2 separate regions of the Homo sapiens genome follow, and region 2 is linked to region 1. The links come from fine-mapping of genetic effects on gene expression. A gene starts in region 1. The other region holds a variant in brackets. All regions are shown on one strand. Distances are between the middles of the regions.

Region 1 (10,208 bases):
CTCGCTGACTGGCAATTGATTAGGTTCGAAGGCCAGAGGGGTTTGGGAACCAGAACTTGAGCAGTACACTTCGTGGAACCAAACAAAAGTTAAACAAACTAAGTTTCTCTTGAGCCTCCTTCTAGGACATAAATGAACCCCCCGTAACTGGGACTGGTGGAGGGAGCACTTCTTGCCACTTCACCACAGCTTAAGAGGGCATTTTGGACTTTAGACAACCCCTATTATTAAAGCCATACTCTAACAGTGTTTGCTTTTGATTTTTATCCCAGAACATCAGCTGCTTCCTGTCCCCCAAACATACACCACCCTTCACTCCCTTGCATATTAGCAGTGTAATTTTAATAACTTCAATATATTCAATGTTAATAAAATGTCCATAATAGTAAACATCCTATCTGAGAAGGCAAACAGGAAAGAAAAGATTGTTTTCATTTTTAGTGCCTCTTATTTGGAAAGATGGAAATTACCCAGAATTCTATTCTCTTTTCCTTAACCAGTAGGTGGCACTAGTGGTTTCTGGCAATGAATCAGCTCCCTGTACCTATAATGTAGGGGTTTTTGGGTGTAAAACAATCAATGCTTAAGATTTGGGGGAAGATGAGGAGCATGTGAACATATGGGCCTAAACAGTAATTGAAACATTTATAGCTTAACCAAAGAGGTTTATTTTAATATAAATCTGCATGGTGTGAAATAGGTCTTATTATTCTTTACAAGTGATTCAGAGCAGTTATATGAATAATAGAATGTATATAATATACAGAGGTTTAAACTATGCTATGAATCCTATTGCAGATGTCCTTACACTGGATTTTATGTGACAAGCAAAAATTATTAAAAATTTTGACATTGAAGCACACATTTACTTGTAGTTTAGCTTTGAATATCTAATTGTGGGTTTTTACATTTATTTCCTGTGTTATCCAAGACATAGTTTTTAAAACTTGTGCTTATATCATTTTTCATAGAATGGTATACTAGAAAAAAAATAAGGATTGAGGGGCAAACAAACCGGGATTAGAATCTAGGCTACCACCTACTAGGACAGAAAACCCTAATAAGATAGTTATTTTAACCAAGCCTAGGTTTCTTTGTTCATAAAATGATGTCTGTCTCAAAGAGCTGTGGTGAGAATTAATACTATTGTATCTGGCCAGGATCTGGGATGAAACAGGTATCCAGTCAGTTCCTTCTCCCTTTGTCAGTTTGAATTTTGAGGTTGGCAGAAGCAAATAATAATAATATTAGGTGGGGAGGTTTGTTTTTAAAAACCAAGTTTTAAGTATATATTTTTAGAAGTAAATAAACTTTTAATTTCTACCACTTTTAATTAGTTTCATTATCTTTCTCCTTGGTTAAGACAGTCTAACATTTAATAGGTATTATTCAGCTCCAATTCTTCAAGGTCAGAGGCTTGGTTACTGTAAATTTGTAGAGAGAAGTCTGTCAGGAATTTGGAGTCTCAGCTTTCTTTTTGTTGGGATATAAGCTGGCATTCCAGTATCCTAAGTATTCCTTTTCAAAGTACAGATAAGCACAATTTAGTGACTGACTGAGTTGCCAGCTTTTTGTATGACCCACCCTTCAAAAAGTTCGTTTTGCTTCTGTTTGTTCAAATATCTTTGATAAAATGATAGTCTTCATATCTCTTGTCTGTTTGCAAAAGAGCTAGTGTTATTAAAGGCTGTTTGCTGTTCATCTTTCTTATGGAAAAACAATATTTTTTTAAAGCCTTATTCTTATTTCGCTTGGGCACTCAGTGTCCTTCCACACAGTGACACCTACAGAGTCATTAGCAAAATTAGATAAGTAACTGATTTATTAGTTCCATAAATGCATGGTGTATTCCCTTTCCTCAGAGTGTAGAGCAAAAATTATTCATGCTGAGGTAGAATAATCAAAATGACTTTAAAAAGCACATTTTTATCATTCTAAACATAAGCACTGCTGTGGTGGTATACTATCATACTACATAATAATAGAAATGAATTATGTCAGTAAAATCTTGAGGCTTAAGATTTACTGTGATAAATATTTTTCATTAAAGTGAAATATCTTGGCAGAGTCACTTTCATATGCAGACTGTTGACACAAGGAGGCCAGCTGTGCCTATGCAGATGCCGAGATTTGGGTCTATATTATTAATGATTTATCATGTCATGGAGAGCTTAGATTAGTTTTGAAAGCAATCCCTTGCCACAAAAGCACTTTCTATAATGTGCGAACGCAAGGAATACTATATGTGCATTCCAAATCAAAGTAATCACAGAAGCTGCAGCAACCTTTGAAATTTCAATACCTCTTTTTATTTTGAAACATGAAATTCTACGTCCTAAATTTTATTATTCATTAAAATTCATACAAAATGTTATTTCATATCAACTGGATAGTGAGTGGTGTGTGTATCAGAATTAATAGACATATACACATAGATAAGAAAATGAAGGAGATGGAATGGAACAAACATTTATTGCAAACCTATTGTGTAGCATGGACTTTTGCCCTTAATCTCACATTTAATGTGAGGTTGGATTAAGTTTCAAATTCAATTCTGCAGGATTCCCAGATTCTGCTGCCTTTGGAGAATCTATAAAAGCATTGTTTAATATTTATTCAGTGCTTGCTTTGTTCCAGGTCAGATGCTAAACACTTTACATGCATTACCACATTCTGTTTTTATAAAATCAATTTGAATATTATTATCATCATCCCTGTTTTCCAGATGAGAAGACTGAAGCATGTGTGGCTAAATAAATTATCCCAAGTCACAAGTCTAGTGAGAGGAGGAGCCTGGGTTTCAATCCAGACTAATATTCCAAAGACTTCATTATCATCTATTGCTATTAACTATGACCTCACTATTATTAACTACTATTACAACTAAGTAAGGGGTAGAATTCAACTCCTACTTGCTTACTACTCTGTGACATTAGGCAATTCACTTAAACTCTCTAAGCTTCAGTTTTCTCATCTATAAAAATGATAATAATAATAATAGTACTTACCTTGTAGCATTGTTGCAAGTTAATATTTGTAAAATGCTTAGAACAGAGTTTGGGTGCATATTAAGTACTGATGTTTTGTTTAATAACAGTTAAGAAGTTGTACTTTCTGATGACTGATGAACTTTTATTAACAATTACACACACAGATTTTCTGTAATTTTCAGATGACCGTTATGCTTCAAACTGGACTGTAAACAAAATGACTACTTTCCACTGATGGGAAATGTATGTAGATAATGTTTAAGCATAATCACTAACCATGTAAAGCATTGAGCCCTTTACAATTTCTTCTGGTGAAAACACTCAATTATCTCCATTCATCCATACCTTCCTTCTTTTACTCATTTAACAAACATTCTCATGCCAGTACTTTGCTGAGTCCTGGGGACGCAGGATGAATAAATGGAGAAGGATCCAATCTAGAGCTGACTGTATTCTCTGGTTTAGCACATAAGGGAGTGTGAGAAAGTCGTAGGTTCCATTGTTAGATCTGTTTAACAAGTATTTATTGGGCGTCCATTAAATGCCAGGCACTGTGGTGGGCACTGGGACTGTCTAGGTAAATAGAGATTGCTGCTGTTAAGGAGTGTCGAGTGGGGAAGACATGCTAAATCGGTAATTTGCCTTCAATTTACTTAATTACGTAAGTGAACTGGTTAGGGGAGCACAGAAGAAAAGCACTTATGCCCATGGTAGGGGCTAGTGGGATGAGGCAAGTTTTGACATTTAAACAAATTGTTGGCTAGAAGTCAGGAAAAGCAGAAATTAAACTACATACCAATATGGGGATGGAGTACCCAGAAAGCAGAGACACCATGAAACAGTGTGGCACAGTGGTGAACCGCAAGTTTCTGGGTAATGCTAGCATCTAAAGCATAAGGTAGGGAGAGGGGGGAGTTAGACTGGAGAAGTAGCAAAGTTAAAAGGTTAAAAGTGTGTAAAATCAACTGATGAGACCAAATGCTAATAAACCACAACAATGGTAGCTGCATAAAGAGTTAGCAGTTTTCCTTAGACTTCTTTCCACTAAAATCCAAATAAAAGGAGCGTTGTTTTCCTATCAAGATTCTTGGAACCAGGGAAATGATAAATGCTTAAAAGTAATATTTTGGTCTTGACCAAAAGGTAAAGGATACCATTCGTACCATGCCACAGTGAAGAGCCTACTTCCTACCTCTCATCCCCAGCAAGCCAAATATAGGGATCGACTCCGAAGTCTTCACTGATAATGTAGACTGAAAACACGGCTAATCCATGGCTTGAAACGACCTACCAGCATATCCTTCTGCAATCTAAAAGTTTATTTTTTCCTGGATTTAGGAACTCAGTCTAGGGCAAATTGCACTCTTCAGGTGGCACTCTGGAAAGCTGACGATTGTGGAATTTTAGCAAGGAATTTAGGAATCTCCAGAATTTAATTTTTTTTCCCTCTTTGCTGCTACTGCAGATGCAGGACAACTCAAGAGCTTTCTGTCTCCAGGTGGGTGGCGATTTGACTCCTCATCAAGCCAATGGCCACCCCCTTGCAATCTTTATGCAATGCACAGTATCCTCTGCCTGCAACGGGGGCTTGCTCCCTTGATGGAGAAAATACAGAATAACTGGACGCCAGGAAACAGGCACAGCTTTCTGGGTCAGAAGTTGGCTGGGGAAGGGCCCTGACTGCCAAGTAACTTGCAATGATGTCAGAGCCCAGCACAACCAGAAAACACCAACTAGCCGGCCAACAAAAGACCTAATAACAACAGGAAAAAAATCACAGAGCTGTGTTGCCAAAGCTGTTCTTTCCGCCCCCTACTCTTTTCTTCTAATTGGAAGAACAGCAGGAAAGAGTCTATATTTTAAAAGACTCCTCATCCTTCTCTCCCCTTCTTTCCTTGGGTTACACAGTGTTAACTAGGGAGGAAATAGTTCTCCGGATGAGTCCTGCAGCAGTTGCTTGGGGTGTCTTTTTTGAGTTCCTTTTCAAGGCTGTCCTTGGAAGTTTCAGAAACAACGAGGACCAGGGTATTTTTCCTAAATGTAAACATGTAACTGTGTTTGGGAGAAAGCAGGAACCATTGAGGAAAGGAAGTCCTTTCTGCGCCCCTCTCTTCTCTCTTTCACGGTAATTAACCATACTCAAATGAAAATTAAGTTTGGCGGAAAAAGCTCTCTTCTTTTTCTTTAAACAGGGGCATCATGGTTCATTCTAGCCATTTAGAGCCCTCAGTGATCCATAATTCAACTGGAAATTAATAAAACACAGCCCGTTCTTGGAAATGAAGTTTGAATTAAAATCCTCTTGTTTTGGAATATGTGACTTTTTTTTTCCTTTCATTTGTGACAGTCAATTTTAAATGATGTCACTTCAAGGACATTTTCATTTCTCCCACAACATATTACATGAAACACTTGCCTGTAAAACCGGGTCATTAGCCTGCAAAATTATACTGTACAGAATGGCTTTCATTCAAAGTAGAAATGGGATTTTTAGTAGGCAATTTCTGTATTTTATAAAGATAAAGCAATGTTTGATTGCTTTCTTCCCAGCTGTTTTGCTTAGTGGTTATAAAGAGAAATGGGGGGCGGGGGGGTAATGTGGGGGCGGGTTTGTAAAGATGTGCTTAAAAAATAAATCTTACACTGGAAAACTAAGGCAGAACTTCACGGAACAACTGCGCCCGCAGCTCTCCTGGGCTGCAGTGATTTGTCCTCTGGGTTCTGGAGGAAAGCTCTGAAAGAAGTGAGCGAGAGGGAAAGAGGGAGGGAATCGAAAAGGTTGCTTCGCAGGCTGCAGCACCCACTGCGAGCTGGATGACTGAGGCACTGGGAGTTGCTAGAAGGAGCAGCTACTCAGAGGTGGGGAGAGGGAGGGTGCGCAGCAGAGCGCCGGAGAGGAGGGACGCGGAGGCCACCGAGGGGTCAGCAGGGCCGCGGCGCCAGGGTGGGGGCCTCCAGGCGGCGCTGGCCACGGTTCACCCGCGAGGGCGAGCGCGCCCGGCCGGCCGCGCCTCCTGCCGTCCGTGCCCGGGGGTGGGACCCGCGCCGGGAGCTGCCGAGTGCGTGGAGGGAGCCAGGCTCCGGCTCGCCTGATGGATTGACTTGGAGATGGATCGAATTACACCATTTGCCGTGCATCGGTTTGTTTTGCTCCTGCTCTGTCCCGCTGCTGCTGCTGCTGCTGCAAGGGGTGGTGGCGAGTTTCAGGATTCTATCAAGGAAGCCAAGACCTAAGGAGACAGAGGGATATCTATTTTTACAATATTTTTCTTTATTTTCTTTCTTCCTTGCGCGTGGCAAGCTTTTTTTTTTCTTTTTCTTTTTTCTTACCAGCCTCCCCCCAATGAGGTAAGACCGTTTTCAACAATTTGCTAATGCTCTTGTGGCGCCCGGTGGGGGTCGGAACCTGAGATCCCGAATCGCTGTGTGTGTGTGTGTGTGTGTGTGTGTGCGCGCGGTGGGGGTCGGAACCTGAGATCCCGAATCGCTGTGTGTGTGTGTGTGTGTGTGTGTGTGTGTGTGTGTGTGTGTGTGTTGCCACTGGACAGTTGATTTATTTTCCAAGCTGCTCTCTCTGCCTGCCGTGCAAGGGACGCGCAAAGGGCTAGAGAGGTTTGGCGGACGCGTCAAAACTGGCAAAGCTGGCGGCTTAGGGGGAGGGGCAAGTGGACTTGGAGGCCCTCCTCCACTGTGCACCCCCTTGGAAAAAAAGCGGAGGGGGCATCAAGTAAAAGTTTCTTGCCAGGCAGAGCCAGCTCGGCGTCCCCCGCACATAGCTGGGGTTAGCAGGGGTTGCTTCTCTGCCGGGCACAGCGTCTCCAGGAGCCAGCCGGGGAGAGCTGAGCCAAGGCCGAAGGAGCCGCCTGCGGGCTTAGCCGCCCCCTCCCGCCCGTTGGCCCCAGAGCGGACGCTGGGACGCCCGGGGTCTGGCAGCTCTGCGCCCGGCTAGGAGCGGGCGGGCGAGCATTAGCCTGCGTCCTGGAGAAGGGGCGCAGCGCCGCAGTTGAGGCCGGAGCAGCCCCTCGCGGGCGTAGGATACCTGTCAGTGAGCGCCCGGATTGCACGGCCCCCGGGTAGTGCCTGCCGGCGAGGGGCGGGAGCTCGGGTGACTTGGCCATCCCCATCCCCGGCCCAGGCCCGGAGGGCGGCCGCTTCCCACCGTCCCTCTCCCCTTACTGGCAGAGCGCGCTGCGGGCGGACTCCCGGGCCCGGAGCAGCCCACCGGCCACCCCACCGCCCACCCGGCTCCCGGTGTCTCCTCCCGGCCGCTCTACCCAGCAACTTTCCGTGCTTTGTTCCCCGACTGGAAATGCTTTACGGAAGCGTCTTGGACAGGGTCTCCGCCAGGCGACAAGAGCTCGGTGCTGAGATGTGTTACGTTCTCATCTCCCCATCAATTATGGATGGAAACAAATAAGGAAGAGTCAATTTTGCTGAGCCCCTTCTCCGGCAACGAGAGGCGTTCTGCAGCCGGGAGGGAGCCGCCGCTCGCGCCGGCAGCCGCTGGCAGGGGCATGGTGAGGAGGAAGGTAGGGAAACTTTTATTTCCCGTCTTGACAGCGGCGGTGTTTGTCCCTGGTCTGCAGAAACTGATACAGTAGCCTCCTTCCTTGGGTAATTTAGGAGGGCTTGAAGCTTCTTCTGTCATGTGTAATTCTTGGATTGAAATGAAAGGTCATAAAGGACTTGGAAGTGTGCACGAGAATTGGGTTTGAAAAATTTGTGCTCCATCCACTCTTGGGACCATTGCTGTCAGGTGATTGTTTAAATCCTGAACTTGTTAAAAGGCGAAATGTCAGGGAGCTGGCGGGGGTGGGGGTGTGGAGGGGGATTGAAGTCCCGGTATGAATCGCAGCGTTTGAGGAACTTAGGGCAGTACTCCCTGTTCTGGGGTGACCATTCGGTAACTGATGTTCCAGCATCCCGAGCCCTCAGCGCCGTCAGCTGGATGATCTCACAGGGAAGGCGCAGCACATCGTTACTATAGATATATAGACTTCGTCAACAGTCATTGGACCTTATGTCTGCCACTACAGCGGGGGCTTTCCTTTAAAAATAACTGTAGTGTTTCCTGTTACTTGGGGTGAAAGGGCAATGAGTAGGACGATTTTTCCCCAAAACTTCTGGCGGTAAGAATTTTAAGTCTGTAATAAAAATTATGGGTGCTTTTTAAGGTTGCCCTTCCCCCTACTTGATATTTGGGGCCATTAAGTGGATTATTTTGTTTATTCCAAAGCTGAAGTCCCTGGGAAAGGTCTAACATTTTTCTAAACTGGTTTGATCTCTGTCCCTTAGAATAGGAAAAATACTTGTTTGAAGAAAATTTTCAAGGTTTCTTCCTTGTAGTATAAAGAAATCTCATCTCAGACCGCTCAAGGGAAGGATTTTACTCTCCTTTGGTGGCTTAAAAACAGTAGCTTTTGATACTGGTTTACTCTTGCTGTTAAAAAATAAATCCCCTTACTCTCTTAGGTGTCTAACTCAGGAAATTAAGTTGTGTGTAGTCATGTTTAATGTAGTGAGTGACAGGCATATTCTTTCAAGCTGGCAGATATTACACAAACATTTACTCTGGCTTAGATAAATAGAAAATGCCAGATAAGCTCTGAGATTTGGGTCTATATTACCATGAACCTAAACATCTAGAGATAAATAAACCATAGTTCAGCCATAGCTGAGTTTTGTTTTTTATAGTTACTGTCTGTGCTTTGTTTGGTTTAGGTCTCTTAGAATGTACTTCCAGAAAGACAGTTAAATAGATAACCCTAAGGCTTCCAAAATGTGTTGTTGAGCAGACTGTTTTCTTTCATTGGCACATTTTGTTAGATTAACAACTAGCAACTATTTCTTACTGCATCCTACAGAATATTCCTACCTGGCCTTATTCCTCGTAGGGATGCTATATCAATAACCTTTCTTTTTTTTTTTTTTTTTTTTTTTGGAACATTTCTGTGACTCAGGAGAGTATGCCAGAAATGTTGTGACTTCTTCATCACCAACAGCTGGTTAACTTGAGTTTGATTTAGATTTGTGGGCATTTTGCCGTCTTCCTCTTCTTTCTCTCTTTTTTTCTTTTGGTGCCCTCTAATAGCACCATCTGGTCATGTCTCCCCTGGTTTGATGGGTTGATGGATTTGAAAGATGGCTGTGATGTAAATCCGTTAGTCCTTAGAGTGAGGACAACTTAGAAATCCAGAAGACTTCAGTTCCTTGCTGCATGCACAGAAAGGCTCTGTCCAGTAACTGTGACTGGGGTAAGCAGGCCCCTACATCAATGTCGTGGTTTCTGTCGCTTGAAAGGCCACAAGCAAGTAAACAGGAATCAGAGCCTTGATTCACAAAGATGGCCATAATTGCTAAAGACTTATTGAAACTGGAGAAGTTCTTCACTTCTTGCTGCTCCATCATAATAAACCTTGGTAATTAGCTTAGTCATTGTTCTTGCATGTGAGTTTCACTAAGATACAAAGAGTGAAAAATGCATCTGAAATAGGGTCATTTTTCACCCTTTTGATGCATTTTATGCAGAGTTAAGAGCCTGGCTGAATGCCTAACCATTAGTAGTGTAACCGTAGGAGGTGAACTCTTTCCTTGTTATATTGCGTGATAAAATATTGTCTTTTATTTTAATTGATAGACTTTAAGCCTGCATATTCTAGATGCCTTTCTAGAGGAAGCAAGAAGCAGTTGGGGTATGCCAACTAGGCAGTATTTACTGAATATTTATCATTTGCAAGGAGCTGTGCTAGCCAGTGTTCCAACACCAGGTGAGCCAGATATGTTTCTCTGTATTTTCAATAGAGCAAAAATAGAAGGAAATAAAGGATGGGAAAACAGACCTTTTGACAAGAAATGTAGATATGCTTCTTTCTTTAGAAGTGTATTATTTTATTCTAGAGATTTTAAAGCAAGATTATCCATACCAGATATTTGCAGTGGTGCAGCCTACCTGCCTTTAACACTAGTGAATGATTCAATGTACTGTTAAGTGTAATTCACGCATTGAATCTGTCCTTAGAGTGAGAGATCTCACTTTCTGTGGCTCATGTGAATGGAGACTTAGTGTTAATATCTACCAAAGCTAGTGTCTTGGGTTGCCGCTGATTTTGTGAACAGCTGCCAACTTCCAATTGGGGAAAAAAAAAGTGTTCTGATTTATTCCCATGACACACGGAGAGAATAAAAATCACATAACTATTTTAAACATACCATAACACT
Region 2 (10,208 bases), 260 kb before region 1:
CTTATCATGGAGTCCATACACCTCCATGGTATTCATGGAAAATTCAGGAGTCCATGAACTTGTATAAGAAAAATGAATCTTTATTTTCACTTACCTCTAATTGAAATGTAACAGTCCTCCAATTATTAATGCAAGATTCAAATCTAAGTAGTATTAGCAGTTGCTGTGATTTTATCACCAAAAAAATATTTTAATATCACACACAGTCCTTAGAGATATCTGGAAATATTATTTATGCTCAACACTGCTTCAAATTATTAGAGCTGCCGCTAGAATTTCTTTCAACATTATAATAAAGAAGTACATATAATAGGGTACAAAATGAAAAGATTACTTCTACTTTTAGCAGTGAAGGACCAGAGACTACATTTGTGCACTCACCTTAAACAAGTAAAGAAAAAAATAATAATATTTCCAAAACAACAGTTTTAGGATACGCAATAGGCAGTGCAAATAGTAATATCTGATAGAAGGGAAACAAATGAGGTAATCACTGAGATTGTCTCAGTTTACTGCTCAAGAGTTTCCAGGAAGGAGGATCTGAAACAGATGGCGGTAGTCCCCCTGTAGTTAGCAGATGGATTTGAGAATTCAGGGAGGCCACAGCCCCTAGACTTTGTAAGACAGAGTACTGAAAAGAAAGAGCTGCACAGAGAGAACGCTTTTGAGGTCTCCATAATGAGTGTTCCCAAGTCTTCTCTGCATTCTCATCAGTATGAGGGTGTGAGGAAACCACCCACATCTTGAGAAAGAACCAATAAAGAAGTGGGTGAAACAGTCTCAAGAGATCACATAAGGCTGGTAAGAATTTTCATCCTTCCAGCCAGAGTGGAAAAACTTTGCATTATACAGGGCACTGGCAATATACTTGGAACTGTATTGCCTTAGTAGCAATAAAAAATTATTCCTAAAGACTGCTCTGGTCTTCTATAACAAAGATTATAAGCAAGGCTTGAAAAGCTTACCAAATAATTTATTTGGGTTTCAGAACAAATCTCAAACCTACTTTAAAGAATACAAAAATATCCAGCATTCAAAAATATAAAATTCAAATGTCAAGCATCCAATACAGACTTACTTATACACACAAAGAAGAAAAAATACACGTTTTATTAGGAGAAATAACATCAATCAATATAAGAAGATTCAGAAAAAAAACACAGATGAAAGTATCAGCACACAAGGATATTAAGCAGTATTATAAGTATATTCTATATGTTCAAGAAAGTAAAAGAAAGCATGAGCATGCTAAGCACAGATATGGAGGATAATTAAAAAGACCTAGTTCAAACTTGTAGAGATAAAATATAACTGCCCAAGATTTAAAAATATGTAGGAAGAGACTATCCGAAGATTAGACACTACATAAGAAAAGGTTAGTCAATTTGAAGATATTCCTTTAGAAACTAACCAAATTTCTCACACAGGATACTTTCAAGCAGGCTAATATATTTGTAATTAGAGTACTCAAAAGGTAAGAGACATGGAAAAAATATTTGAGGAAATAATGGGTGAAAATTTACAACTCTGATGAAAAATATAGACCCAAAGATCCAAGAAACTCAATAAATGCCAAGCACAAGCACAGGAAGAAAATTACACCAAAATGTATTGTCATCAAATTGCTGAAAACCAGTGATAAACAGAAAACCTTAAAAGTAGCCAAAAGAAAAAAAAAGTCGCAATGAATACAGACAAAAAGAGAACATAAAAATGGCTGCAGACATTGAAAACAATGCAAGCCAGAAGACAGAGAAGAAACCTCTTAAAGTACTGAAAGAATAAAATTTTCAACCAAGAATTTATACTCAGCAAAATATCTCTCAAAACCAAAATAAAAATACGAAATGTTTCAGACAAACAAGAGCTGAAATCTAGATCTATACAAAGTAATAAATAACACTGAGAATGTTAAAATTGTGAGCATATATAAAAATACTCTTAAAAATCTCTTTAAAATACCATTGGTTATTTAAAGTAGAAATTATACTGATGTATTGGAGGTTTTCACCATATATGCGGTAGTATGAGAATCATAGTTGAATATTTTAACAATTTATTTCAATAAATAGGAAATTTATACTAAATAAGAATATAAAAGACTTAAACAATGTTATCAACTAATTTAACCTAATTGACATTATGGAAGACTTTCTCCAATAACAAAAATACACATTATTTTCAAAGGCCCATGGAACATTTACCAAGATAGACAATATTCTGACCATAAAAGAAGTCTTATTAATTTAAAAAGAATTCAAAATATGCAAAATATATTCCCTAGCCACAATGGAATTAAATTAGGAATTAATAGTAGAAATATATCTGCAAAATACCCATGTATTAGGAAATGAAATAACACACTTCTAATTAACCTGTATGTCAAAGAAGAAATCAAAAGGGAAATCAGAATGTATTTTGAAATGAATTAAAGTAAAAGCATGAAAAATAAAAATGTGTAGGATGCTGTTATCACAGTGATTGGAAAGTGACTGATAGTACTAAACACCTTTTTTTAGGAAAGAAGAATGGTCTCAAATCAATGGCATATGCTTCCATCTAAAAAACCTAAAGGGACAAAAACATCTGAAATCAAAGTAAGCAAAAGAAATAAAGCTATGAGGTCAAAACCAAAAATAAATAAATAAATAAACTATTAATAAAGAATATCAGTATAAATGTTGCAGACAAACACTAAGATAAGCCCCAATGATTTCCACCTCCTAGTATTCATGGCTTTGTGTAATCTTCTACCCTTGAGCGTGAATGGGACCTGTGACTTGCTTCTAACCCATTACCTATGGTAAAGGTAATGAGATGTCATTCTTGTGATTAGGTTTTGTTATATAGCAAAGGTGATAGGATACAGCCCCCATCATTATGTTGCATTATGTGAAACTCTATCTCAGCAGACTGAAGCCAGAGATTCTTCTTGTAGGCTTGATGAATTGAGTGACCATGTTGGAGAAATCCATGTGGCAAGGTGTGTAGACAGCTTCTAGCCACTTCTGGTGGCCTCTAAGACCTCAGAGCAGCCTTCAGACAACAGCCTGTAGAAAGCCAGGCCCCTCATTCAAATTGCTGTCAGGAAATGAATCCTGTCAACTGCCTGAATGATCTGGGCATCAGATTCTTCCCAGTTGAACCTGCAGATGAAAACACAGCCCACCAATACATTGATTACAGCCATGTGACATATTTTGTAGACTGACTTGCAGATGGCTTGATTATTGAATGCAGGATCATCTGAGAGAAAGAGGAGAATCAAGAAAAACCTAGCTTGGTTTTGCACTGGGTGGTGGTGACTTACTAAACAAGACAGACCACGGAGAAACAGATGAAGGGAAGTAACAGTGGAAATCAAAAATTCTGTATTGACTACACTAAATTTGAGGTGTTTACAATATCCATAAGTGGAAATATTTAAAATTAAAAACTTTTATAATAACCTCAAAACAAACAATAGGTTTTCTCCCCTCTTTCCCCTGCAGCTTTGCACTTAAACCAATATTAAATTCTTAAGAATTTCTGGTGGAGAGTCTATTAAATTCTACTTAAAAAGATTTCATCTCTGGGTGATAACAAAGATAACTATCTGGGGAAAAATGTGGAGTAGTGCAGAGTGTTTAAAATATACTGTATTTGGTTCTTCTACTTCAATTTCCTAAATAACACATGAATTTATTAAATAAAATCCATTCTTGAAAATCAATTCCACTAACTCCTCCATTGACCTTTTAAGCTCTTTAGATCCCCGTATTCAAATCCCCAAGTCAGGGAGTTTCAAAATCTTACATACAAACTTAAAAAAAAATGCCTATTTTCTAGGTTTTATTAAGGCATAGCTAGGTGAGGTTAAAGTCATCTAATTAGCCATCCCACCACTGTGTCTCTTCATTTGCAACATTCTGACACTCAGCTATGGCGAGGAATTCTCCTCCTGTGAATTCTCAGAAATTATTTAGAAATTATTTAGAATCTAATTTTTATGCCCAGGGAGCTCAGTAAGAAGGAGTCAGTCTCATTACTGCTTATCAGAAATTACTTTTTGTCTCAAGTCTTCTTTACCCTGAAAAGCCAATTTTGATAAGAAGTGAAGATTTAAGCCAACAAGAAGGGGCAAATCATTGCAAGCAGTGATCAATGAAGTTGGGTTAGCCAGGCTTATTTAGAGTAGTCCGAGAAATCATCTTGCTGATGACCAAATCTTACAAAATGATGAGTACCCGACTCTCAATGTGCTTTGAAAGCACTGAAGGGAAATCATATATCTGCTATGATTAAAAACTACATCATGATGCTGTGTGCTTGAGGACAGTGTATAAGAAGGAAGAAAGACAGCTGGAAATCAGTGATTCATTAGTGTTAGGTGTTAATGTAATTGTGAATGTTTTTCTTTGTCTTCCAACCTTTTGTGCAGATAATATTGTGAAAGGGGAATGAGGAGTATTTAAACATATTGCAAAAATTTCCTAATTTTTATTTAAACTATAATAGAATCATCAAACTGGGTGAACAAACAAATCCCAGTTTTGGTAAATGTTATAGATTTGGTAAACGTTGCTTATAAGTAACTGAGATGTTTCTTACCAATAAGCACTTTAACATAAAACAGCAGATTTAATGACCCGGAAATTAACTCAACTAACTATGCCTTGATCTTGTGAAATTACTGTTGGTATTTGCCCTAAACAGGCATGCTGGGTCCTGTCTGTGGCTCACAAGTCCCCAGATGGTGTGACTCCTGCCTACTTCCTCTTCCTGCTTCCTCCAGCCACTTCCTCTCTCTCACTCTGCCCAGCCCTCCTGACCTTCTTTTTGCTCCTTGAGCAAGCTCATTTCTATGCCAATGCGTTTGTACTTGCTCTTGTCTCAGCCCAGACCACTCTCTGCTTGGTCTTCGCATCACTGCCTTTATTTGATTCTTACTTCAAACATGACTTTCTCAGAGAAGCCTTTGGTGACCACATTGCCTAAAATAATGGCATCCCCACCTGCACCTCATCATCTCATCACACTGTCATTATTCCACATGCAGAAACCTTGCACTCTGAAATTGCCTTTATTCATTAGACTACTTCTTCATTGTCTCCCCACAGCCACTGCCACACACACACTCTTGAATGTATGCTGCATAAATACACAGACCTTGTGCTTTCTCCCCCACTATTATATCTGAAGCACTGGAAACATCACCTAGCATAAAGGAGTCATCTGTAATATTTGTTGGACAAATGATTAAGTTGAATCTAGTAGACCAAGAATCTGAGGTTTGTCCATCAGAGTTAAATTTCATGGTTATTACACATAGCATAGAACAGTATTTCCGTCATTAAAAATAATATTAATAATAATAATGCCCATAGCAATTTTTTAAATTGGTAAAGTGAGGTGTATAGGATGTTCGGGAAAAGCTTCATCTTGGAAATTTAATTGCTTTCTGCTCTTCAATGAGTCATTCTATTTGGAATGGAAAATCTAGTCCTCATATGTTAATTTATTTAAGAGGGATGAGCTAAGAGCAATACAAACCGACAGATAGTCCCAAAGGGATAAATTCATAAGATTAGAACTTGAAGGGCAAATTTGTAAAAT[G/A]TGTGAAGAATGTATATGTTTCTGCTTGTATATTCATATTTATACTGGGATGAAAGAACAATGTTACCTCCCAGTGTGCCCAGGTCCAAGTCAATGCATACCAAGGTTTGATCCTGCCACATGAGTAAGATAGGCCTGGTGTATTACCAGAAAATACTGAATATTTCATAAAGTTACTATTTGGTGATTCTAGATACTGATGTTTTTCTCCTTTTACATCCTGTTAGCGTGATTCATTTCAAATCTTGGTACTACCATGGAGTTTTTCCAGACCACGCCAGTGTGATATACTCTTCCCATTTTTCTGACATCCTGTAGCAATTATTGGTAATTAAATGTGGCCTGCCTTTTGCTATTTTTGTTGTCTTGAACTCTTACTTGGGGTTCTTTTTGTTTTGATTGTTTGGGGCTATTATTTAAAATTTAAGTCATTATGACTCGTTTCACCAACAAGATTTTTAATGCAGGGATGATGCTTTTAACCTTTTGTGCTTTCCACAGGTCCCAGCACAGTGCCTTACATAGCAGGCAAGCACTACATATGTTGCCTCACCAGCAATTCTGGAAGGCAAATGCTTCATGTATCCCAAATGACCCATCTCGGCCTCTCTCTTCTCAGACGGGAACTATATAGGTTTTTTTTTAGGAAACTGAACCTCCTTCCTACAGCCCTTTTGAATATTGATCTGGAGTGATGCTGTTGCTACCCTGGACATAAACGTATTTCTTGTTTCCCTGCCATCAGAGATTAAATCGTTGACTGTAATGAACTAGAGTTAAAACTACTAGGTTCTTCGGATTTTCAGATAGAAACAAAAACACATTAGTTGTGGTGGTTTGTTGTTATTGTTTTTTTCCTGTTTCTGTGAGCCATAGCGAATTGTGATTACTCTGTTCACAATGAATAGATAAAAGGCCTTCTCTTTTTCATTATTAAGGTTAGGCAAGAGTGCAGGTAATTTTATCTCATAAAGATTACTTAATTCACCTTGGGTGAGGGGAGAAGGGCTGAAATAAAGCTAAAACCTGTTCTGCAAGAACCCAGCCTTTATGGCTCTGTTTGTCCTAGTCTGGCTTATAATTCATTAGATCTCTTAGCAAAACAGATGTCATTGAAAGAGGCACATGGACAGAGAGAAAATGCCTGACCATAAAGAGACGTAGCTACAAGACCAATTCAATGATGAACTTGGATATGGAAAGGACTTTTTAAAAAAAATGAAGAAAAGGATCTTCAGTAAGTAAATAAGACTACCTCAGTTTCCTGAAGGAATAGCAGCAATCCATGATAACAGTAACAAAAACAACCAGGATCTAAATCCACCTAGTTTTTCATTTTGGTGCAATATTTTCAATTGCAAGCTGGGTTCCACAGTGAACTCTGCATGAAGCTTGTAATTTTCCCCTAGAAATATTTTTCAAGCCTTCAGCGGCCCTAGAATGTTCAAGCTGGTCCTTCACAGTTATCCACATACATGCACCCTTTTCTTCACAATTCAAAACTTTCTTCTCCATAAATCCTTTGCTGATCATCTCTGCCCATGACAAGTTCTCTTGACTCAATTCGTATAGCCCTGACTGCATATATGTCTCCTTTAAATCTTAACACATGCAGTACATTTGCATTTACAAAGGAAAATAGGCTCAAACGCCAAAGTTTCTCAACCCTTTGCAATGTATTTCCAAAGAAAAGGTGGTGGCAGCTGAAGCACATGTGTGCGTCATGGTAGGCCTAAGAGTTGTAGAGTGTGTTGATAGTATGTCGGGGGAATCCCCGTGGGGCCCAAAGGGAACACACCTTAAAGTTGGACAAACTTAGATCTGAAACATGTCTTTTGTAGTTTACTGTGCGACTGTATTAGTTTCCTGTGGCTGCTGTGACCAGTTGTCAGATAGTTGGTGGTTTAAAACATAACTTTATTCTCTCCCAGTTCTGGAGGCCAGAAGTCTGAAATCAAGGTGTCCACAGAGCTGCACTCCTTCTAAAGGCTTTAGGGAGAACCCATTCCTTGCCTCTTCCAGCTTCTGGTGTCTCCAGTCATACTTTGGCTTGTGGCTGCGTTACTCCAATCTTCACCTCTGTGGTCACCTTGCCACCTCCTCTCCTGTATGTCTTCTCTTTCGTTTATCTGTCCCCCAGACTCCCTCTGCCTCTCTCTCATAAGGATACATACACATGATTGCCTTTAGGGCCCACCTGGATAATGCAGAATGGGCTCATCCCCTTTTTAAATTTACTCATTCACATATTTTGCTATATAAGGTAATATTCACAGGTTTCAGGGGTTATGATCTGGACATATCTTTTGGGGGGCTGCCATTCAACCCATGTAGTGACCTTAAGAAGAGATTTTAACTTTTTTTTAGCTACAATCCCTCATCAGTAAGATAAGGTTAATAAACTTTTATTGTCAGGCAGTTAGGAGGAATAAAGTAAAATATATTTTCCATGTTAAGTATGTGTTGCAGGATCATGTAGGGTAAAAAGTCTTTCTCTGGATGCTATTGTAATAAATTCAGCCCCTGCAGCACCCCCACCATAGAGGTGTCTCATATGTGCTCGTTAAGAAAAGGCACCCATCCTGCTTCAGGTGCCTTTGGTGATACCCATTGTCTCTGCCTCATGCCGAACCACTGCCACCAGTGTCCAGTCCATGCCAAGGACTCCTGATGCTCCCAGATCAGCCAACAGTGTATTCCACATCTGGGCCTGGCTTTTGCTCTTATAAGATGGTTGGTTTGAGGAGGTGCCAGTATGCAGGCATGGTAGCTAATTCCCTGCCACCACTGTGGTGTGACTGATTTAGTCAAGCCCTCAAGGAGCTAAAATTTTATTGAATTATTTATAGTCCTCCATGTGCACAAACCACCCTGCACCCTTGTCAAAATGGAAAGACTCTCTCTCTCTAACCTTTTAATTTAAATACCTCTTAATGGATGAGTACCATATGTTAATATATGAGTCCATACAAAGTTAGGTCAGAACACAAATCAAAGTGACAGTCCCATGGATTGCTCCACCCCACTGATAAAAGGCACTGTCATGGACCAAGTGGGGGTTTGCCTGAATTTACTCTATTAAGAGACTCTTAAGTTTCTTCTGCAAATAATCAGGTAATTTCACAAGTTTGCCATATATGTATGAATCCCAGTGATAAATTAAAGTGAGCCTCAAGCTAGAATACTCTGTTTCTCTCCTGTTACACCTCCTGGCCCTCCCTGACTCCCCTCACCACTCACAGATACACAACAACTAAATGTGCCTTGCACAGCACCTAGAACATAGTAGGTACTCGATAAACACAAGATCGTCTTCTGTCTTGTACTCACAGTGCTTTGAACACAGCAGGTAGTCAGTAGATGCATTTTGACCAATGTGTATCTGGATTTGTAATGTGTAAGAAATATTGAAACATTCCTCATAAAATTTCAATCATTTCTATTTGGCCTCTAACTCTAACCTCTTTCACTATTAATTGGTTCTTAATAATAAGCCCCTAAATATAGATGTTTGTACAAGAAGAAGTGGGCAAATAGTTGTCCGCATCCCAGTTAAAATTCTTATTGCCTAGACTTAGCTTTGCAACATTGCTAGGTGGCTAAATTATTGCATAACTTATAAAGGGGAAAGGTTTCTGACTTTATGTTCTAAACGCAGTTGATATGGTTTGGATTTGTGTCCCCACCCAAATCTCAAGTCCAATTGTAATCCCCCGTGTTGGAGGAGGGGCCTGGTGGGAAGGGATTGGATTGTGGGGGCGGACTTTTTCCTTGCTGGTGTCATGATAGTGAGTTTTCATGAGATCTGGTTGTTTACAAGTGCATAGCACCTCCTCCTTCTCTCTCTTCCTCCTTCTCCTGCCATGTAAGATGTGCCTCCTTTCTCTTTGCCTTCTACCATGATTGTAAGCTTCCTAAGGCCTCCCCAGCCATGCTTCCTGTATAGACTGCAGACCTGAGTCAGTTAAACCTCTTTTCATTCTAAATTACCCAGTCTCATGTAGTTCTTTATAGCAATGCGAAAATGGACTAATTCACCAGTAAAGGGTCTTGCCAATTCTGCAATAATATTACCTATTGGTTTCCTCCAGGGAACTTGACATGCTTTTCTGATATCAAAATGTTCATATTTGTAACTTTTCATAGAAAAGATAAAGAAAATAATGTGTTTTTATTTTCTCCCAGCTTTATAGGTGGTATAATTGACAAATAAAAATTGTATGTATTCAAGGTATGCAAAATGATTTGATGTACATATATATTGTGAAATAATTACAATCAAGCAAATTAAGATGTTCATCACCTCACATAGTTACCATTTTTTTCTGTGTGTGGTAAGCACACTTCAGATGTACTGTATATGCAAATGACAAGGATGCAATACATTATTATTAACTGTAGTTTCCATGTTGTATATTGGATGTTCAGAACTTAGTTCATTTTATAACTGAAATTTTGTACCCTTTGACAAAAATCCCTCCATTACTCCCACCCTCTAGCCTGTAGCACCCACTTTTCTACTCTGTTTCCATAGGTTAGGCTTCTTTAGTTTCTACCTATAGGTGAGATCATGCAGTATTTGTCTTTCTGTGTTTGGCTTGTTTCACTTAGCA

Direction of the effects. Positions count from the first base shown, and alleles are read on the strand shown. Sizes are in standard deviations (SD) of each study's normalised expression.
In carriers of allele A in region 2, the expression in fibroblasts of the gene that starts at base 6,151 in region 1 tends to be higher than with G alone (moderate effect, 0.67 SD a copy in GTEx).

Evidence for each region.
Region 2: its variant is fine-mapped to the expression of SEMA6D in fibroblasts (GTEx, PIP above 0.99).

The regions. Positions count from the first base shown.
Region 1 is chr15:47,711,355-47,721,562 of GRCh38, forward strand. It overlaps SEMA6D (semaphorin 6D), which reads left to right and starts at 6,151. Exons shown (of 19, transcript NM_001358351.3): 1 at 6,151-6,338. RefSeq lists a silencer at 5,978-6,272.
Region 2 is chr15:47,456,235-47,466,442 of GRCh38, forward strand. It overlaps a transcript of SEMA6D not described here. Among named protein-coding and RNA genes, the nearest start is that of SEMA6D, 260 kb to the right of the region's middle. The variant G/A (reference allele first, on the strand shown) is at 5,596.